2 separate regions of the Homo sapiens genome follow, and region 1 is linked to region 2. The links come from fine-mapping of genetic effects on gene expression. Tissue or cell type: blood mononuclear cells. Region 2 holds a variant in brackets; the other region holds the start of a gene. All regions are shown on one strand. Distances are between the middles of the regions. Region 1 holds the start of CAPG (capping actin protein, gelsolin like). Region 2 has its middle 36 kb from the start of SH2D6.

Region 1 (10,733 bases), 45 kb before region 2:
TCACAACGCAAAAAAAAAAAAAACAGGCCAAAATTTGAAAATCAATGCTATACACCCTATTAACAAACATGTATGTGTAATCACCTCAATAGATGCAGAAACAGCATTTAGCAAAATTCTACATTCATTCCTAGTTTAAAATTTTTTCAAGCCTGGGCAATATAAGGAGACCACAACCCTACAAAAATTTTAAAAATCAGCCAAGGCCAGGTGCAGTGGCTCACACCTGTAATTCCAGCACTTTGGGAGGCCGAGGTGGGTGGATCACGAGGTCAGGAGTTCGAGACCAGCCTGGCCAACATGGTGAAACCCTGTCTCTACTAAAATACAAAAATTAGCTGGGCATGGTGGCATGCGTCTGTAATCCCAGCTACTTGGGAGGCTGAGGCAGGAGAATTGCTTGAACCCAGGAGGCAGAGGTTGCAGTGAGCTGAGATTGTGCCACTGCACTCCAGCCTGGGTGACAGAGCAAGACTCTGTCTCAAAAAAATAAAATAAAATAAAATAAATAAAAATCAGCCAAATGTGGTAGTGCAAGCCTGTAATTCCAGATCCCAGCTACTCAGGAGGCTGAGGAGTGAGTATCGCTTGAGCCCAGGAGATAGAGGCTGCAGTAAGCCAAGATCATGCCACTGAACTGCAACCTGGATGACAGAGTAAAACCCCCTCTCAAAAAAAAAAAAAAAATTTTTTTTTTACCCACAAACTAGGAATAGAAAGAAATTTCCTTAACCTGTTAAAAAGGCATCTATTAAAATACAACAAACAAACAAAAACCCTTCACCTAACATTATATTTAATGGCTGCTCTAATTCTAAACTCCCTCCCTGAGAAATTTCACCCACTCCCAGGCATCAGCTATCAATTCTGTATGCCCAGCTTCCCTCAAATGCCAGAATGATGAACACTTTTTCTGGACAAAAGTCATTCAAGGGAAAAAATGCTAAACGCAAGTATTTTTTAAAAAGATATTATCTTTTTAAAAAATTCAGAAAATGCAACAGCTACGGCTCCACTCACTGTCGCTTTCATAGGTTCCCATCACTAGAGGATTTCTTTTTTTGGCTCAAAATGCAGAGATCACAGAGCCAGCATGCACTTCGTACATAATACAATTCATGCTGTGCATCCATTTGGACAGAGTTTGTGTAAGATGAGCCCCAGTGGCACAGGGTAAGGGCTTGGGGAATTGGAGGGTAAAAATGCAAGCTGGCACCATTAGGAGATTCTTGGGGGCTGGGGCAGCAGGATCAGGAAGTGCAATATTTCGCAGGGGCCAGGGAAGTCAGGGGTAGGGGGAAGGCAGATGACAGAGCAGAAGGTATTAAGTCTGAGTAGGAAACAAAGAGGGACAGGTCAAGGGCAGTGATAATGGATGTGAAATGCTGTGTGAATTATGACTTTCCTTTTCCTTTCCCAACCTACAAAATAGTGGAAGGCATATTTTGGCACCACGATTCCGGAAGAGGACATGCAGAGAGCAGAGGTTTGCGGAGGGAAACTTTAACGTTTCTCCATCCCACAGAGGATCACATGCTGTGCCCACATCCCCTGCAACAGGCAGCCCAGCCTGTGACTCAGGCCTGAGCTGGTGAAGTGGCTGCCCCAAGCTCAAGCCATCAGGGAGCGCTCAAGAATGAGACACGGAGTGCGCCAATTGTCACCTTTACTATTTTTCATTCTGTGTTTAACTCAAAATCAGGCAGCCTACATGCCAGAGAGCCACATCAGGGTTTGGATGAAAGGGGTTTGGCAGGCCGGGTGCGGTGGCTCACGCCTGTAATCCTAGCACTTTGGGAGGCCGTGGTGAGCAGTTCACTTGAGGTCAGGAGTTCGAAACCAGCCTGGCCAACATGGTGAAACCCCGTCTCTACTAAAAGCACAAAAATTATCCGGAAATCACTTGAACCTGGGAGGCGGAGGTTGCAGTGAGCCAAGATCCATGCCACTGCACTCCAGCCTGGGCAATGGAGTGAGACTCGGTTTCAAAAAAAAAAAAAGAAAAGAAAGGAGTTTGGCTGCTCATTAGAATGACCTTGGGACCTTATTAAAATGTCGGTACTGACAAAGATTCTTTGCTTGGCCAAACTTTAACTAGGCTTCTGAACCACCCCGTAGGCCCATCTGTGTGCTTGTAAAATCCGGTTTTAGCAAAAGAACCCTGCTAAGGCCATTTACCTAGAACCCCCTACCCTTGATATCTGGTCGATCTGATAATCGTGGATATCTGATTGGGTTCCTCAACACCCTGCCCCCGCCGCCCCAGTGATGTCTGATCACTCTGGCCTGTATTCAGCAAGAATCCTGTTAGGGGCCGGGCACAGTGGCTCATGCCTGTAATCCCAGCACTTTGGGAGGCCAAGGCGGGCAGATCACCTGAGGTCGGGAGTTCGAGACCAGCCTGACCAACATGGAGAAACCCCATCTCTACTAAAAATACAAAATTAGCTGGGCTTCGTGGCTCATGCCTGTAATCCCAGCTATTCGGGAGGCTGAGGCAGGAGAATCACTTGAACCCGGAAGGCAGAGGTTGCAGTGAGCTGAGATCATGCCATTGCACTCCAACCTGGGCAACAAGAGCGAAACTCCGTCTCAAAAAAAAAAAGGAATCCTGTTAGCTCAGTCTAGCCAGAATCTCTTTACCCTTGATGTTTCCTCTTAGTAATTTTCTTTTTTTTTTTTTTGAGACAGAGTTTCACTCTGCTGCCCAGGCTGGAGCGCAGTGGCACAGTCTCAGCTCATTGCAACCTCTGCCTCCTGAGTTGAAGCAATTCTCCTGCCTCAGCCTCCTGTGTAGTGGGATTAGAGGCGTGCACCACCACATCTGGCTAATTTTTTGTACTTTTAGTAGAGGTGAGGTTTCACCATGTCAGTCAGGCTGGTCTTGAACTCCTGACCTCCAGTGATTGCCCACCTTGGCTTCCCAAAGTGCTAGGATTACAGGCGTGAGGCACTGCGCCTGGGCCATATTTTTTTTCTTTAACAGTGCCCAAGCCCCTGGTCTGGGGATTCTGATTCCACAGGTCTGGAATGGGGCTTGATCACCCATATTTTGAACATATGTTCAAAGTGATGGTAGTAGTGCCAGTGAATTCTGTCCAGAACAGTGTCAAATGCTCACCTGCACATTAGAATCATTTGGGGGCTTTTGAAAAACCCCAGTGCCAGCCAGGCATGGTGGCTCATGCCTGTAATCCCAGCACACTGGGAGACTGAGGTAGGTGGAATGCTTGAGCTTAGGAGTTCAAGACCAGCCTGGGCAACATGGTGAAATCCTGTCTCTACAAAATATACAAAAATTAGCTGGGCGTGGTGGCGCACACCTGTCATCCTAGCTACTTGGGAGGCTGCAGCACAAGAATTGCTTGAACCTGGGAGGTGGAGGTTGCAGTAAGCCGAGATCACACCACTGCACTCCAGCCTGGGTGACAGAGTGAGACTCTGTCTCAAAAAAAAAAAAAAAAAAAAGTAATTTACAGAAAAATAAGAAAGAAAAACCCCAGTGACTAGCTTCCATATTGGACTCATTAAAACCAGACTCTCTAGGTGGAGCCTGGATGTCAGTGTTTGAGAAGCTCCAGATGACTCTAATGCTTGGTCAGGGTTGAAACTCCTGCTGCCTCATTAGATCTCTGTCCCGAGACCTTTTGTTCCAGTCTCTCCTGGGGAAGGGTCCACCCTGACCTCTGGCCTTTCATTCTTTCCCCTATCCCAGCCCTCTGTCCAAGCCCACAGCTCCTTGAGCTTCCTCAGTGTCCATGTTCACCCTTACATCCATTAAAGCCCCCTCATCCTAGGCTGGGCACAGTGGCTCATGCCTGTAATCCCAGAACTTTGGAAGGCTGAGGCGGGTGGATCACTTGAGATTAGGAGTTCAAGACCAGCCTGGCCAACATGGTGAAACTCCATCTCTGCTAAAAATACAAAATTAGCCAGGCATGGTGGTGCGTGCCTGTAGTCCCAGCTACTTAGGAGGCTGAGGCAGGAGAATTGCTGGAACCCGGGAGGCAGAGGTTGCAGTGAGCCGAGATGGCACTACTGCACTCTAGCCTGGGCAACAGAGGAAGAATCTGTCACACACACACACACACACACACACACACACACACACACACAAGCCCCCTTATCCTTCCAGGCCCGTATCAAGCCCCAGCTGTCCAAGGAAACTTCCAGGACATTAAGTGGCCTCCGCCTTCTCTGGGAGTTCTCCCAGCCCTCTCCCCTGGGAGCACATACTTTAGCCTGTTTTATAGCATAAACTGGCTGCTTCACATCTCAACTGGAGCAAGGACACACCTGATGCCTCTGTTCCTCAAGCAGCCCAGCAAAGAGTCTATTCCATTCCACTCAACGTCTGTGCTGGGGGCTTGGCACTGGGGGTGACATGCACAGAGACAAAGAATAGCCCATGTTTTATGGTTTAGCTGCAGGGTGCAGTGAACAAGGGAGCCACCATACCCAGTGAAACCGCAGACGAACTTCCTCTAAGTGGGGAATGTCACAGAATCACAGATGTCAGCATTAGAAAGTGCTAAAGTTGAAGAGGGGAGCTGGGGCCGGGGGGGAGGAATAAAACAAAAAAAAGAAAGCGCTAAAGTTCTTATCTAGTCCTGCTCTGCCTGCACCGCCCTACACATACCCATACACGCATAGTGCAGAAATCTCTTCTATAGCATCCCTTACCATCCTCTTCTTGAAGGCTTCCAGTGATGGGAAACTCACCACCTTACCAAACAGCCTCTTCTACACCTCTTAAAGCCTTTACTTTTCCCCACTCTGCCATAGTGTGGTGAGTTATGGACCCGCCTACCTCCACTACTACACTGTAGGGTCCTTTAGGGCAGGAAGTGTATTTTGCCTCTGGATCTAGCTGGAACCTCATGCAGGTGCTCAAAGAATGCATTTGATTAACTGGACCTGCTGGGCTCTGATTATTAGACTGGGGTGGCACCTAAGGGATAGCCCAGGATTTCAAAAGGCTGGGACAGGCTGGAGCAGCCCCAGGAGGCAGAGAGCAGGGGCTAGGGGTCCCAGACTGCCATGGGGCTGGGGGAGGGGAGGACGCAAGTCCTGCTGGCTGTCCCATGGTCCTGACTTAGGCTGTCTTTGAGGACACACTGGGGGACCTCGGAGAGGAGGTCACCGTTACACACACCTTTAAGGAAAGACTTGACAGCCATCAGAGGGACAAAAATCCTGCCGGGGTCCAGTGGTACCTTTGCCTTCCTCAGACCCTGATTCCACTGACCCCCAATAGGTCTCTTCCCTTCACAGTCCCTGCTTGCCCCTAGGTGTGAAATGAAACAGCACCTCCACTTCTCCTGGTGGAGGTAGGTGCCCACCCTCGAAACCAAACTGAATCTCCCAGCCTGGGACATGGCATTCTCAGAATCTAGGTCCAGAGGCCTCATTTGGGGATTCCAAATGGTTTTTCCCCTGATACCAAATAGGTCTCCTACCCTTCCCCAGGGTCAACCACTTCCTCCCTCCCCACCTCCTACCTCAGACAGTCCACCTAGACCCTCAGCCAAGGTCTTCCAGAGTTTGCAAAATAATCAAATGTGCCACTTGCATTTGAATTCAAATGGCTAGGACTGCCCTGCCCCCTCCCCAAGCCACTCCCACCCAAATAGCATCACACCACAGTCCTGTCTTGGGGACAGGCAGCTTCTAATCTGATTTCACCTCCAGTCTGGCTGAGGGCCTTCAGGAGCAGTGTGGTGGCCTCCGTCAGGAGGTCTGGCACAGCTGGGACAAGCCCTGACCCAAGAGTTCCTCCATGTGCAGCATGGGCACAGCCCACCCATCCTCCCGGGCAGCTTCACAGCTGCCATCAGATCAGGTGCCTGGAGCCTGGCATAAGGCTGGCAGGACAGCAGGCTGGGGGAACTCCACCCTGGCACAATGTGGTATCCAGAAATGTGGGTCTCTGTTCCCAGGCCACCACAGCCAGCCCTCGCCTGCCCACCCAGGAGGGTACCAGCCAGCCGCGCTGGCAGCCACCCTGCCACCTTCACCTTTCAACACTCCTACTTTCCTTTCTTCCTCCTACCTCTGCTTCGTAGGTTCGTCTTCCTTCCAGCCTGCCCCACCCGGCTTCTCACTTCCCTCTTACTTCTCTGGCTGCCCCAACCACCAGCCCCACCCACCAGCCCCACCCCTGGGCTCCTTCCCCAGCCGGTGTGGAGGCGATGTCCCCCGACAGGGAGGGGCAGGCAGTGCTGGGAGGCCAGCAGGCCTGAAGCAGAAGAGCAGTCACTGGGGTGGGCAGTGGGTATGCCAGGCCGTCTCCTCAGAGGGGCACACAGGGAGGCTGGAGGTCCACACAGCCCCACCACAGTGGCCTCAGCCCGCTGCAGGTCACAGCCAAGGCAAATCAGGGAGGGCATCTCTGAGTCTGAGACCAGCAAGGAAAGCCATGTTCTCCATTCAGGGCCTGGGGCAGGCGCGGCACAGCCCCCACCGCTGCTGGGTTAGTCACATTTTCTGGGCAGGGTCACTGGCTTCACATTACTTTTTCCTCCTCCCTCAGTTTGTCTTTCTCCTTGCCCTGAATGCAAGTATTTGATTTTTTTTAAGATCAGTTTTTTGGTTTTTTTTGTTTTTTTTTTTTTCCTGAGACAGGGTTCACTGTCACGCAAGCTGGAGTGCCGTGGCATTATCACCGCTAACCGCAGCCTTGAACTCCTGGGCTCAAGCGATCCTCCTGCCTCAGCCTCCTGAGCAGCTGACACCACAGGCCTGCACCAACATGCCCGACTAATTTTTTTATTTTTTCTGGAGACAGAGTCTTGCTACTCAGGCTGGTCTAGAACTCCTGAACTGAAGCAATCCTCCCACTTTGGCCTCCCAAAGTGCTGGGATTACAGGCGTGGGCTACTGCACCTGGCTAAGCTCAGTTCTCAGGGAATGGCTGAGGCCATAAAACATTCTTCACCATCTTCCGCATGCCATGCTGATGCCTCTCAGGTCTCTACCCTTTGGTCTGCTTCTCATTCACCAGATGTTTATCATCATGACTTCTGGGCCCTGGGCCCTCTGAGAGACAGCCCATCCTGGGTTGACCCAGGGCAACTATCCTGCCTACATCACAGTCACTAGACCCTAGAGCTTGTCTCCTCCAACTCGCTGGCTTTCTGGAGGACACCGAGGTCCTGAGAGCACAAGAGACTGCCCACAAACACACAGGGAGTGGAAGCCCCTGCAAGGGAGGCTCCCATTCCCTTCTGAATCCCTGGGGGAAGGATGAGCGGACTCAGTATGAGGCTCCAGGAGAAAGTGAGCACCCAGTTATGCAGCCACACAAGCGTAGTTCCTCTGCCCAGAACCTAGCCGGCCTGTCCTGGAAAGGTATTGGTCAGCAGGCTGGCTTGAGACAAGGCTCCAGGTTCAGGGTCAAGGCCTGGGGACCCTGGAGCAAAATCTGGAACAAATCTTCCTAATTAGCAGACCTTCAAACAAAACCTCATTATTTGACTGCGTGGGAAAAGTCTGGAGAAAATACAGTACTGGATAGGCTGGGCATGGTGGCTGTCTCCGGTAATCCCAGCACTTTGGGAGACTGAGGCAGGCAGATTACCTGAGGTCAGGAGTTCAAGACCAGCCTGGCCAACATGGTGAAACCCTGTCTCTACTAAAAATACAAAAATTAGCCGGGCATGGTCATGGGTGCCTGTAATCCTAGCTACTGGAGCGACTGAGGCAGAAGAATCACTTGAACCCAGGAGGCGGAGGCTGCAGAGAGCCGAGATGGCGCCACTGCACTCCAGCCTGGGAGACAAAGCAAGACTCCATCTCAAAAAAAAAAAAAGCAATACTGGATGAATGTTTCTCATTGAAACGAAATTGATAAAATTTCACTAGAGCAAGACGGGAAGTTAAATCTTCTCCCCAAAGAACATGGCCTGTAGCTAGCATCCAAGTGTCTCCATGGCCAAACTGCCAGGCTTAAAAATAGGGTAATATGGGCCGGGCGCGGTGGCTCACGCCTGTAATCCCAGCACTTTGGGAGGCCAAGGCGGGTGGATCATGAGGTCAGGAGTTCGAGACCAGCCTGGCCAGCATGGTTAAACCGCCATCTCTACTAAAGACACAAAAAATTAGCCGGGGGTGGTGGCGCATGCCTGTAATCTCAGCTATTCAGGAGGCTGAGGCAGGAGAATCGCTTGAACCCGGGAGGCAGAGGTTGCAGTGAGCCGAGATTGCGCCATTGCACTCCAGCCTGGGTGACTGGGCAAGACTCAGTCTCAAAAAATAATAATAATAACAATAATAATAGGGTAGTTTGGTGGAGGGTGGGAGGAGGGAGAGATTCAGGAAAATAACTAATGGGTACTAGGCTTAATACCGGGGAGACAAAATAATCTGTACAACAAAGCCCCATGACACGAGTTTACCTATATAACAAACATGCACATGTACCCCTGAACTTAAAAGTTTAAAAAAGAAAAAAAAGGATAGTCTGGGTGAGAATCCCAGTAGGGCCTAGTCCCCACAAAACCACAGGCTGGGCGGTTAACCTGGTAGAGTGATAAGAGCTAGACAATTTGGCTCCTTACTAGCTGTGCAAGTGACTTAACCTCCTGGAGCCTCCCTGTGCCCCAATCTGTAACACGTGCATACAGTTAAATGTGAAGATGAAATGAGATCCTATGATTAATGAGCAAATAATACATGCTCGATAAACCCAGACTTCTTTCTCTTCCCTTTAGTTTGCAATGTGCCATCAGCACCTGAGGTAGAAATGTGCCTGGCCACTCCCCTAGCTCCCGGTTTCTCCACAGGAGGAAAGAAAGTTAAACCACAGAGCACTCTCCTATTTCCATCCCCAGCCCCAGCGCTGGAAAGCTTCATAGATTTTGGTCACAACAGCGCATACCTTGGGTGGCTCTTAAGTTCTGGACTCTGTGACCCACGGAGGGAACAAGGATCAATGGGAATCACTGTTCCTCACACTCAGCTGTCTAGGCTAAAGCCTCTCCTATCACCACAGGAAAAAAGGGGAGAGGTTTACACATTAACAGCGAAACAACTGGCTGGGCGCAGTGGCTCACGCCTGTAATCCCAACACTCTGGGAGGCCGTGGCGGGCGGATCACCTGAGGTCAGAAGTTCGAGACCAGCCTGACCAACGTGGCGAAACCCCATCTCTACTAATAATACAAAAATTAGCTGGGCGTGGTGGCGGGCGCCTATAATCTCAGCTACTCGGGAGGCTAAGGCAGGAGAATCGCTTGAACCCGGGAGGCGGAGGTTGCGGTGAGCCGAGATCTCGCCACTGCACTCCAGCCTGGGCAATAAAAACAAAACTCCGTCTCAAAAAACAAACAACAACAACAGCGAAACAAAAGGGCCGGTCGCTCAGCCTAGGACTCTCGGGAGCGGCTAGGAACTCAATGCACATGCTAATGAGTTATCTGGTAACGACGCTCTAGAACTAGTTTTTTTACCAGACGCACAGTGTTCCTACCCTTGTGGTCTCCCCTGAGCACTACTGCTTAGTTTGTCCCAAATGAAGTAAAATAAAGTATTTCTTTAGCACGGACCCACCCTCTCCCGCCTTTTCTTACAGGAAGCCAGGAGACGGCGCGCCCCTAAGAGAGGACCCCGGCTGTGGGAGAAGAGGAGGGAGCGGGGCGCCCCCGAACCGGCTAAGCCCGTTCGACCCCTACATGGGGAGCCCAGGTCCCCGGCGACCGGACCCCGAAGCGCACTACTTGCCTGCCAACGCCTTGCTCCGAGGCCCTGGGCGCTGTCTCAGCCGCCCCCCGCCCCCTGGAGGTGCGCGGCCAGGAGCCGCCCCCGGTGAGTCAGAGGGAGGGGCCCGGCCGGTCTGAGCTGGCGGGGAGCCCCTATGGGAGGCTGGGGCGCCCGAAAGGGTCCTAGAATTGGGCGTGGGAAGGAGGGTATAGGGGAAGCTAAGGACAAGCTTACTGTGCTGTAAACTTTGCGAGAGAATTGCAGTGTTCACTTCCATTCAATCGTTAGGCCCCCGGCCTCAATCACCCTGTGAACAGCTACTGTTCTGTGAGAGCCTACTATGTGCTTGGTGCGTCCTCACATCTACTATCATTATTCCTGCTGGAAACATGAAGTCTTTGGGAGGCTCAGAGAGGGTAACTAACTTGTCCAGAGTGTCACATTGCTAGTTCAGTAGCAGAACTAAGATTTTTTTTTTTTTTTTTGAGACAGGGTCTCACTCTGTCGCGGCACCTGGAGTGCGGTGCTGTGATCACAGCTCACTACAGCCTCAACCTCCCAGGCTCAAGCAATCCTCCAGCCTCAGCCTCCTGAGTAGCTGGGACTGCAGGCATATGCCACCACGCCCAGCTAAACTTTTTTTTTTTTTTGGAGAGACTGTGTCTCACTCTATTGCCCAGGTTGGTCTCAAACTCCTGGGCTCAAGTGATCCTCCTGCTTTGGCCTCCCAAAGTGCTGGCATTATAGGCATGAGCCACCGCACCCAACTGCTGAACCAGGATTCTAACCCAGGCTGATCTGACCTGCAACACCTGACCCTTCTCTTCTTTATTCAGAGGAAAACAGGCCAGCAAGCATCTGCACCAGGAGGCCAGGCCTTCTGGAAATGTGTTGGACAGCGATGGGTCCACACTTCCGCCTTGGCTCCTGAATGTGGCATAGCCAACCCATGAGAGATGTCAGTTGACAAAGAGCATGAGGATCAGGCCATGGCCTTGTGACACAGTGGTAAGATCCTTTTGTGGGAGGCAGCTT
Region 2 (10,694 bases):
GGGTCAAGGACTCTTCTTCTTGGGTCGTCTCTTATGAGCTGGATTTCGAGCTGGGCCCTAGAACAGCCCCTCAGCAGTGGCTGAGGATGCTGGCTGAATGCAGTGAGAGAGGGAAGGGGTCTGCTGTTCTTCCAAGGGCACCCCGAGGCCCTGCGGTTTCTCCCAGGACACACACACACATCCCTGGCCACCAGACCCACTGGCCCACGGGCCCTGTGCCTCATGAGTTCTTTTTCGTGCAGTTGGCTCTGTTAATGCCCCTGCTCAGAAGACCAAGGCCGTGGGTTGGCTCCCTGGGGGTGAGGCCTCCTGTGGTGAGACATTCTGTTCCTTGGCCATGAACTGAACAGAGTGTTGCACATTACAACAGGATGACAAAAAGAGACTGTCCCTGCGTGACATGGAAAATGCACAGTTCTCTAGCTGAAAGGGTGACTCCTCCTGCGATCCCCTCCTCCTTCCAGTTCCTTCTCACCCCACCTCTATGATCCGTGGGGATTTTCTGAGATGAGCCCTCATCTATTATATCTTCACATTCTGTCTTTGACGTAAAAGCTAACTTTAGTAAAGCAGGGCTTGGCTGGGCACAGTGGCTCACGCCTGTGATCCCAGCACTTTGGGCGGCCAAGGAAGGTAGATTACCTGAGGTCAGGAGTTCGAGACCAGCCTGGCCAACATGGTGAAACCCCATCTCTAATAAAAATACAAAAAAAAAATAAAAAAAATTAGCCAGGCATGGTGGTACATGCCTGTAATCCCAGCTACTTGGGAGGCTGAAGCAGGAGAATTGCTTGAACCTGGGAGGCAGAGGTTGCAGTGAGCTGAGATCACACCACTGCACTCCAGCCTGAGCAACAGAGCCAGACTCCGTCACGATAAAAATAAAAATAAAAATAAATAAAATAAAGCAGGTATCTCTCTAAACATCACAGAGTGCCTAGAAGAATCAGGTTCTCAGGAAGCAGGATAATAAGAAGGCTTCAGAGGGTATGAGCTGTGGCTGATTAGTAATGCAACAGGGACAAGAGGAGACTTTTATTTATTTCAGAGGACAGAAAGTAGCTGCCACGGCTGTTTTGTGAAACCAGGCTCAGTTCTAGGGTGGATCTGAGGACACCACTGGGGTGAGAGACTCCGGGAAGGGACCCATGAACCAGAGGGGCTCTGACTTGAGAGGATCAGAAGCCCGTGCTGCTGGAGGGAGAAGAACAGGTCAAGTCATGGGGCTGGAATCAGAGAGGGGATTCCCAAGGATGGAGAAGGGTGAGGGGATGGCTAATCTATGGTGTGACAGGCCATGGGTCACAAAGAAGGGATCTGGAGGCTCCATTTGGTGTTTCTACCACCTGAAAATTTGTGTACTCACCAAAGAACTCATCTGTTCTAACACCTGGGACCCCTTCCTGCTTCCTCATTCTGCCCAAAGTGTCACTGTACTGAAGGGCCAGGGTCTCACCTGACACTCACCAGGCTCCCCAGAGACCAAAGCTCTACTGTGGCTGTCAGGCCCCACCTGCCTACCTGGAATTCCATCCATGGTCTCCTGCCAAGTGCTGCTCCCCACGGCACCCTCATTGCCTGTTCCCTCCCGATTTTCACTGCAGGTGGCTGTGTGAGGGGGAAGAAGAAGACTGCTGGATTACACTGGATGGATTGGCCACTAAAAATGGCAGCCTCTGTCAGGTACAGTGGCTCATGCCTGTAATCCCAGCACTTTGGGACACTGAGGCAGGAGGATCGCTTGAGCCCAAGAGTTTGAGACCAGCCTGAGCAACATAGATACCCCATCTCAACAAAAAAAATTTTTAAATATTAATGGCCGGAAGTGGTGGCTGACACCTGTAATGCCAGTGCTTTGGAAGGCCAAGGAAGGCAGATTGCTTGACCTCAGGAGTTCAAGACAGGCCTGGGAAACATAGCAAGACCCCATTTCATTAAAAAAAAAAAAAAGATAAAAGTAAATAAAAAAAAAATTAATCAGCTGTGCTGGTGTGAGCCTGTAATCCCAGCTACCCAGGAGGCTGAGGCAGAAGGATCACTTGAACCTGGAAAGTGGAGGCTGCAGTGAGTCGTGATCATGCCACTGCACTCCAGCCTGGGCAACAGAGTGAGATCCTGTCTCTCAAAAAAAAAAAAAAAAAGGGCAGCCTTTCTTTAATATATCCATAATGACACCAGGCCTCCAGAGTAACTGCTAACAAAGTGCTTGCAGAATCACCCACCTATAGCATGAATTCAGTCTATCAACAACACTAGAAACAGAAACACAAGGGTTCACATTTTATTTTTTTAGAGACAGGATCTTACTATGTAGCCCGGGCTGGCCTTGAGCTCCTGGGCTCGAGTGACCCTCCAGCCTAAGCCTCCCAAGTAGCTGGGATTACAGGTGTGCTCCACCATGCCTGGCTGGGATCATGTTTATTAAACACATCCTTACTTGGCCTCTGAGACACCACCCTTTCTTGGACCTTCTTTTATGTCACTGGCCCCTCCTCCCCCATGTATATTTCTGGTTTCTCTTCATTTTCCTGGTGTCAAAATACTGCACGGCCGCAGGAGTCAGTCCTTCTCTTCTCTGTCCTTGTTCACACTCCAGGTGACCTCATCCAGGCTCATGGCTTTAAGATCAATCTCTCTATGCTGACCTCTCCCAAATTTGTATCTCCAGCCCTGACCTGTCCCCTGAACTCTGGGTTTGAATATCCAACTGCCTAATCAACACCTTGACCTGGGTGTCTAATAGACACAGCTGGCACAATATCCAAAATTAAACTTTTATTTTTACCCTAGACCTGCTCCTTCTGCAGCCTTACCAAACTCAGTAAACGATACCTTCACCTTCTCCATGCTCAGACCAAAACCAGACAAAGGACTCTTCCTTGACCTGTTTCATTTACTCACGATCGACATTAATAACCAGCAAGGCTAGACGTGGTGGCTCCTGCCTGTAATCCCAGCACTTTGGAAGGCCGAGGCGGGAGGATCACTTGAGTACAGGAGTTCAAGGCCAGCTTGGCCAACATGGCAAAACCCCGTCTCTACAAAAAATACAAAAATTAGCCGGGCATGGTGGTGCTTGCATGTACACCCAGCTACTAGGGGGGCTGAGGTGGGAGGATCACCTGAGCCCAGGAGGTCGAGGCTGTAGTGAGCTAAGATTGCAACCACTGCACTCTAACCTGAGTGATAGAGCAAGACCCTGTCTCAAAAAAGAAAAAAAAAAAATCAGCAAACCCTGTTGGCTCTACCTTCAAAATATACCCACCACTGGCCCTGCTGCCACTAATCCTAGCCACTGAAGTCTTGACCACAGCCTACCAGGCCTTGTGTGATCTGGCCCACTGCCACCTCCCTGGCTCCATTTCCTGCCACTGACTTTTCCCTTGACCCCTGCCACACTGGCCTCAGACACTGCAAGCCCACTCTTGCCTTGAGTGTATTGCTGTCTTCTCAGCCTGGAATTCTCTCCCCCAAAACACTCACAAAGCTGGCTGTTCTATTTCCTTCTGGTCTCTGCTCAGATGTCACCCCTCAGTGAGGCCTCCCCACACTACTTTAAGACGAGGAAATCTTCCCACACTCCACATTCTAGATTCCTCCTCTGCATTTTTTTCATATCATATATGTGTGTATGTGTGTGTGTGTGTGCACATGAGTGCACATATATAAAAATAAAATATCACAAATTTCCGAATTTCCTGAATTGGGCGATGATCACTCTAGCTACTTCCCGCTGGATAGGGGCAAAGAAGTCTCACTCCGTCCCTCAGGCTGGAGTGCAGTGCTGCGACCTCGGCTCACTGCAACTTCCACCTCCCGGGTTCAAGCAATTCTCCTGCCTCAGCCTCCTGAGTACCTGGGATTACAGGCATCTGCCACAATGCCTGGCTAACTTTTGTATTTTTAGTAGAGATGGGGTTTTGCCATATTGACCAATCTGGTCTTGAAGTCCTGACCTCAAGTGATCCGCTCACCTTGGCCTCCCAAAGTTCTAAGATTACAGGTGTGAGCCACTGCACCTGGCCTTTTTTTTTTTTTTTTTTTTTTCCCTGAGACAGGGTCTTATGCTCTGTTGCTCAGGCTGGAGTGCAGTGGTGGGATCATGGCTCACTGCAGCCTAAATCTCCCAGGCTCAAACCATCCTCCATCCTCAGCATCCTGAGTAAATGGAACTACAGGTGTGTGCCACCATGCCTGGCTAAATTTTTAATTTTTTGTTGAGATTGGGGGGGGTCTCACTATATTGCCCAGACTGGTTTTAAATGCCTGGGCTCGAGTGATTCTTCTGCCTTAGCCTCCCAAAGTGCTGGGATTACAGGCACGAGTCACTATACTTCTTCTTGGCTATTTATTATGTCCCTCTCCTCTCTAAACTATAAAAACTCCATGAAGATGAAGAATTTGCCTGAATTATTTCCTGCTAGAGCCTAGCAGGTAGAACAGTGTCTGGTACATAGTTCCTGTTAAAAGAAAAGCTTCAGCTGAATTAAATGTAAAAGCTGAGCAAAGAATGATTCCCAAATCAGGCAGCCTCCTGAGCCAGAGTAGGCCCACAGACTGCAGTGTAGCCACATGGTGGAAGAAGATTTATGGACAGAAAAAGGAAAGAGACATACAGCAAACGGAAGCGAGTTACAGAAACAGCTGGATTGGTTGCAGTTTTGCGTTTGCCTTATTTGAACACAGTTTGAACAGTTGGCCACATTTGAATGGCCAAAACTCGGTGATTGGCCCAAGAGTAGATTACAGTCTGTTTACGCTTCCATTTAGGCTGTAGTTCATGATGTACAGAGAAACCTTTAGGCCAAACTTAAAATATATAAGGAGGCCAGGCGCGGTGGCTCATGCTTGTAATCTCAGCACTTTGGGAGGCCGAGGCAAGTGGATCACCTGAGGTCAGGAGTTAAAGACCAGCCTGGCCAACATGGTGAAACCGCATCTCTACTGAAAATACAAAATTTAGCCGGGTGTGGTGGTGTGCACCTGTAATCCCAGCTACTTGGGAGGCTGAGGCAGGAGAATTACTTGAACCCGGGAGGCAGAGGTTACAGTGAACCAAGATCACGCCATTGCACTCCAGCCTGGGCAACAGAATGAGACTCTGTCTCAAATAAATAAATAAATAAATAAATAAATAAATAAATAAATAAATAAGAAAAAATGTAAGGAGGCAGCTTTAGATTAAACTTGATTTAACATTTCCTAGATACTAAAACTGTTGAATGGATGAGGCTTAAAGAGGCTAGATTAGTTTCCTAAGGCCACATAATTTAGTAAATGTTGAAACTCAGTGTTAACTAATTTTCCCAAGGTCACAGATTAAGGAGCAAAGGCAAAGCTGGGGTTCAAGCCCAGGTCTGAATTAAACATGGCATGAAGCCACAGAGCTTTCCACCTCCCCGTCCCCGTCCACCCAAGGCCAACACTAGTCAATGGCTCCCCTCCCAGATGTTCTCAACAGTCACCTTCCTGTCCCGCACCCTGCCCTTCAGCCTCTCCTTAGCGGCAATTCATTCTTCGGAAAGGTTTATGTTCATCCTATAATTATAACATAATACATGTTCAGCCTAGAAAACAAGAAAGAATGTTTAGAAAGCAGGAAGGAGGCCAGGCGTGGTGGCTCATGCCTGTAATCCCAGCACTTTAGGAGGCTGAGGTGGGCGGATCATGAAGTCAGGAGTTCAAGACCACCCTGGCCAATACGGCGAAACCCCGTCTCTAATAAAAATACAAAAATTAGCCGGGAGTGGTGGCGCACGCCTGCAGTCCCAGCTACTCGGGAGGCTAAGGCAGGAGAATTGCTCGAACCCAGGAGGCAGAGATTGCAGTGAACCAAGATCGTGCGACTGCACTCCACCCTGGGCAACAGAG[C/T]GAGATTCCGTCTCAAAAAAAAAAAAAAAAAAAAATTAGCCAGGCATGGTAGTGGATGCCTGTGGTCCCAGCTACATGGAATGCTGAAGCAGGAGGATCACTTGACCCCAGGAAGTCGAGGCTGCAGTGAGCCATGTTCATGCCACTGCACTCCCGCCTGGATGACAGAGCAAGACTCAGTTTCAAAAAAAAAAAAAAAATTATAACCTGGCCACTAGTCACAAATCCTGGGTTCTAATCTTCTAATCCCAACAGGAAGGAAGTAAAGGCATGTATATGGGCATAGAAAGACAGGCAGGCTTTGGCCAGAGGAAACAAAGAGGGTTGGTCTCTCCCAGTGTGTCTGGAGTTGGTTCCTTCTGATGGGTTCGTGGTCTCGCTGATTTCAATAATGAAGCCGTGGACCTTCACTGTGAGTGTTACAGCTCTTAAAGGTGGCACGGACCCAAAGAATGAGCAGCAGCAAGATTTATTGTGAAGAGCAAAAGAACAAAGCTTCCACAGCGTGGAAGGGGACCTGAGCGGGTTGCCGCTCCAGGCTGGGGGTGACCAGCTTTTATTCCCTTACTTGTCCCTGCCCATGTCCTGCTGATTGGTCCATTTTACAAACCTCTAGCTAGCCACAGAGTGCTGACTGGTGTGTTTTTACAGAGCACTGATTAGTGCATTTTACAAACCTCTAGCTAGCCACAGAGTGCTGATTGGTGCGTTTTACAAACCTAGCTACAGAGTGCTGACTGGTGCATTTTACAATCCTCTTATAAGACAGAAGAGTTCTCCAAGCCCCCACTCAACCCAGGAAGTCCAGCTGGCTTCACCTCTCACCAGCAGGGGACAGACAAGCAGGAAGGGACAAGGAGATCAAAGGGCAGGAGTGGAGGCAGGGTGGGGAGGAGGGGGAAATGGGACCCTGGGAGCAGTCACAGGTAAGATAAGGTAGGAGGAAGGTGTAGAGAGCTATGAACAATAGCTCAGGCTGAGGAATTTGGACCCAACAAAGGAAGCCTGAGAGTGGGCTGGAGACACTGCAGGTGGGGAGGCTGCTTAGGGATGATGAAGGGTTTTTAGCAGAGATAACTCAAAGAACAATGCAGTGTGGAGGTTACAGGACCAGGAGGAGTCTGAGATCACTCCCAAGGTGAGTGGCCAGTGACTGGGTGAAAAGTGGTGGCTCTTTGGAGGCTCAGGAAGAGGGAAAGGACAGGCTGGGCTCAATTCTGGTTGTTGAGAATTGGCTGGGAGCAGGTCTATGAGCTATGATGTCCCAGAGGAGACTGTCAAGATTATCAAGACAGATGTTTCCATGAGGAGACGCCGGTGAGGGAAACAGGGTGGAGGAAGAGGCACAGGACAGCTCTCCAGCGTAGACTTTCCACTGACCCCAGATCAAGCCTGCACTCCCCAGCCAGGTGTGCAGGGCCCTCCACATCCCAGGCCTACTCACCTCCTCCTGCCTTCTCTCTCACTCAGGAAGACCCTCCACTCCCAGGGGACTGTGCCTCCTCCAGCACTAACTCTTCAGCCACTCCATTTTGCTTGCCTCCATGGGCTGGGCTGCCATCTTCCTTGATGGTCTCCTGCTTCCCAGTCCTCAGCTGCATCATCAGTCCTGGAGCACCTGACGGGTGCTGGAGCACACAGCATAATCCCCACAAACAACCCTTGACTTGACTTCCCTTTTCCACTCTCCTCTCACCGCCCAGTCCCCAGCTCTGTCAGCCTCACTCCCCGCTGATGGCCAAGCTTGTCTCAGAGTTGCAGGTAACCTTGGCATTTGTGCCAAACGTTGCTGACCAGGGGCAGACTTAGCTGTGTAAGGCTGGTCCAGACTCCTCCAGCAGTCACATAGATCAGCTTTAATGTGCCCACGAATCCCTGGGCTTCTTGTTTAAATGCACATTCCAGTGGGTGAGCCTGGGATAAGCGGGCGATCTGTGTTTCTAACAAGCTCCCAGGTGATACTGATGACCACACTTTGAGTAACGAGGATATGGAGGACTTTTGGATCCAGTTTTCTCATTCACCAAAGAGGGCTCTGACCACTTCACTGGGTTACCATGGAATCAAATGAGTTAGAGTTTGTGAAAAGAAAACAAAAACCAAAGGTGCCAGGCAAATGTCAGATTCACCATCTATCCCACGTCTTGCTGCCAGGATGAAGATGATAAAATATGCAAAAGGCCTTGATTGCTTAGCAGATGCCAAACAAATGTTAGGTGCTCCTCCCCCAGAGCCTTCAAGGTTGAACTCAGCCGCTGGGTGGGCTCTCGGCTCATGACTTCATTCCTCTGCTCACTCCACTTACTGGATCTGCTCTCACTCTAGCTTGGCCTTGATCACATCTCCCCATCCCCTCCCGTCAGCCCCATAACACCACTTTTTTTTTTTTTTTTTTTTTTTTGAGACAGGGCCTTGTTCAGTTGCCCAGGCTGGAGCGTGGTAGTATGATCATGGCTCACTGCAGCCTCAAATTCCCACCTCAGCCTCCCGAATGTCTGGGACTACAGGTGCAAGCCACCACACCTGGCTAATTATTTGTGTAATAGAAATGGGGTCTCAGCCAGGCATGGTGGCTCACACCTGGAGTTCGAGACCAGCCTGACCATGATGGTGAAACCCTGTCTCTACTAAATACAAAAAATTAGTCCAGCGTGGTGGCACATGCCTGTAATGCCAGCTACTCTGGAGATTGAGGCAGGAGAATCGCTTGAACCTGGGAGGCGGAGGTTGCAGTGAGCCGAGATCACACCACTGCACTCCCGCCTGGGCAACAGTGAGAGATACTCTGTCTCAAAAACAAATTTAAAAAATTTTTTTAAAATAAATAAATAAAAGAAATGGGGTCTCAATCTGTTGCTCAGGCTGGTCTTGAGCTCCTTGGCTCAAGTGATTCTCCTGCCTCGGCTTCCCAAAGTGCTAGGATTACAGGCATGAGTCAATGCACCCGGCCCACAGACTGCTTTTGATGTTTGTAACAGAGTTCCATGCTGATGCCAGCCTTTTCTGGGTGGGGTTTTATTCTGCTTGATTTGTGTGTCAGCTTGACAGCCACAGCCATCTCACTGCCAGATACAATAGGATAAATGTCACAGTGATTACCAGCAGCGGATGATTAAAATGGTGACTAATTGGGTACCTGTGCCAAGGGAGAGGTAGGAGTTGAAAATAATTCCTAGGTTTCAAGCCTGGGAGGTGCAAGAATGATGAGGTCAATTTGGAGCATTGAAGCTTGGGGCCAACGTGCATGAGACAACACAGTGGAAGAGTTCCTCAGGCGGGTGGAAGTGTGGGACTGAAGGTGAGGGAGAGGTCGGCAGGGGTTTACAGATACCCATAGAGATGTAATCGCTGAATCTGCGTAGAGAGAAAAGAGCAGAAGACTGAGGATTAGACATTTGGAAACGTCTCTGTTTATTCATGTAGCCAAAATAAATTCCAAGAGAGAGTCATTTTGACCAGGTTCTCAAGCAGGGCATGTTTCTTCCCAGGCCCCAAATGGCTCCCATCCTGGCCCTAGCATGGAGGGGTATAGGGCTGCAGGCAGAAGGGCAGTGGGGTCTGGGTCTCACTTTCACAACAGGTCTCAAATTTAGACTCGTGATGTTATTTCTAAATAGGATTATATCATACCTACAGTCACAGACAGAGAGGCCCTGTCGGCTTCCTCGTCCCATCCAGGTGCAGTGAGCATCAGGTTTCCTGTGGACATCAACTCCCACCCAGGAGCTGGGTAGGCTCCCTTTTCTAGGGATTGTCCTTCTCCATCTCTGTGACTGTGCAAGCCACTGTGTGTGTGGAACATGTCTCCACTGTCCCTGCCACACTGATGGTCCCTCTTGGGACAGGGACCTATTCCCACACCAGTCATGGTGCTGTACTCCTCTTGCCAAAATTAACTGGTAGAAGGGAACACCTGACTCAAACTGGACCAACGTGTCACTTAAAGGGGGTCAATGTGTCACTCTCCAGGGGTTTTGTTGCCCCGTTTGAGAGTCAAATGTATTTCTCTACGTAAAAATTAACATAACAACAACAAAAAGGTGGCAGAAATCAATGAATATTTCCCCCTCTGGAATCCACTAACATGCTGGTGGAGGAATTTGTAAATAGACATAAATGAATAAGAACAAAGGGAACCTGTGAGGAGACATAGCAACATGACTTTGGAAGCTAGAAATCAGTGATTACTGAGAAGATCTGAGAATGTTGAATACTGTCAGCTGCAGGAAAAAACAAGTGGTAACCAAGTGTTAACCCATAGAATTCCCTAAAAGGCTCCAGGTACCTCCTGAAGGAAGGTTAAAGATGAGCCTAAAAATGAAGACTCATTAAACGTCTGTTTTAGAAACAGGGCCGGGTGCGGTGGCTCATGCCTGTAATCCCACCACTTTGGGAGGCCAAGGCGGGTGAGTCACCTGAGGTCAGAAGTTCGAGACCAGCCTGGCCAACATGGTGAAACCCAGTCACTACTAAAAGTACAAGAATTAGCTGGACGTGGTGGCGTGCACCTGTAATCCCAGCTACTCAGGAGGCTGAGGCAGGAGAATTGCTTGAACCCAGGAGGCAAATGTTGCAGTGAGCCAAGATCGTGCCACTGCACTCCAGCCTGGGCGACAGAGTGAGACTCTGTCAAAAACAAAAAACAAAAAAAAACGAAGAAGAAGAAGAAGCAGTTAAACCCCAATCCCTCCCCATTGCCCTCCAGTGAGTGACTGTCCCTCCTCCAACCCAGCAAAAGACACTAGCGGCTTCTACTAGGAAAGGATAAAACTGAGGTTTTCTGTACTAGGAGTCATCAGTTACAGGTGAGGGCTCGGATATTT

What was found.
Region 1: CAPG starts here. The variant in region 2 is fine-mapped to the expression of CAPG in blood mononuclear cells (TOPMed, PIP above 0.99).

Annotation. Positions count from the first base shown.
Region 1 is chr2:85,404,265-85,414,997 of GRCh38, forward strand. It overlaps CAPG (capping actin protein, gelsolin like), which reads right to left and starts at 6,102. Exons shown (of 10, transcript NM_001747.4): 1 at 6,053-6,102. It overlaps LOC105374841 (a long non-coding RNA gene), which reads left to right and starts at 9,447. Exons shown (of 3, transcript XR_940316.3): 1 at 9,447-9,803; 2 at 10,535-10,706. RefSeq lists enhancers at 1,548-1,597, 9,206-9,707, 9,603-9,652 and silencers at 6,120-6,169, 6,280-6,329, 9,783-9,862.
Region 2 is chr2:85,449,106-85,459,799 of GRCh38, forward strand. No RefSeq gene overlaps it. Among named protein-coding and RNA genes, the nearest start is that of SH2D6, 36 kb to the left of the region's middle. RefSeq lists enhancers at 5,939-6,928, 9,821-10,376. The variant C/T (reference allele first, on the strand shown) is at 5,872.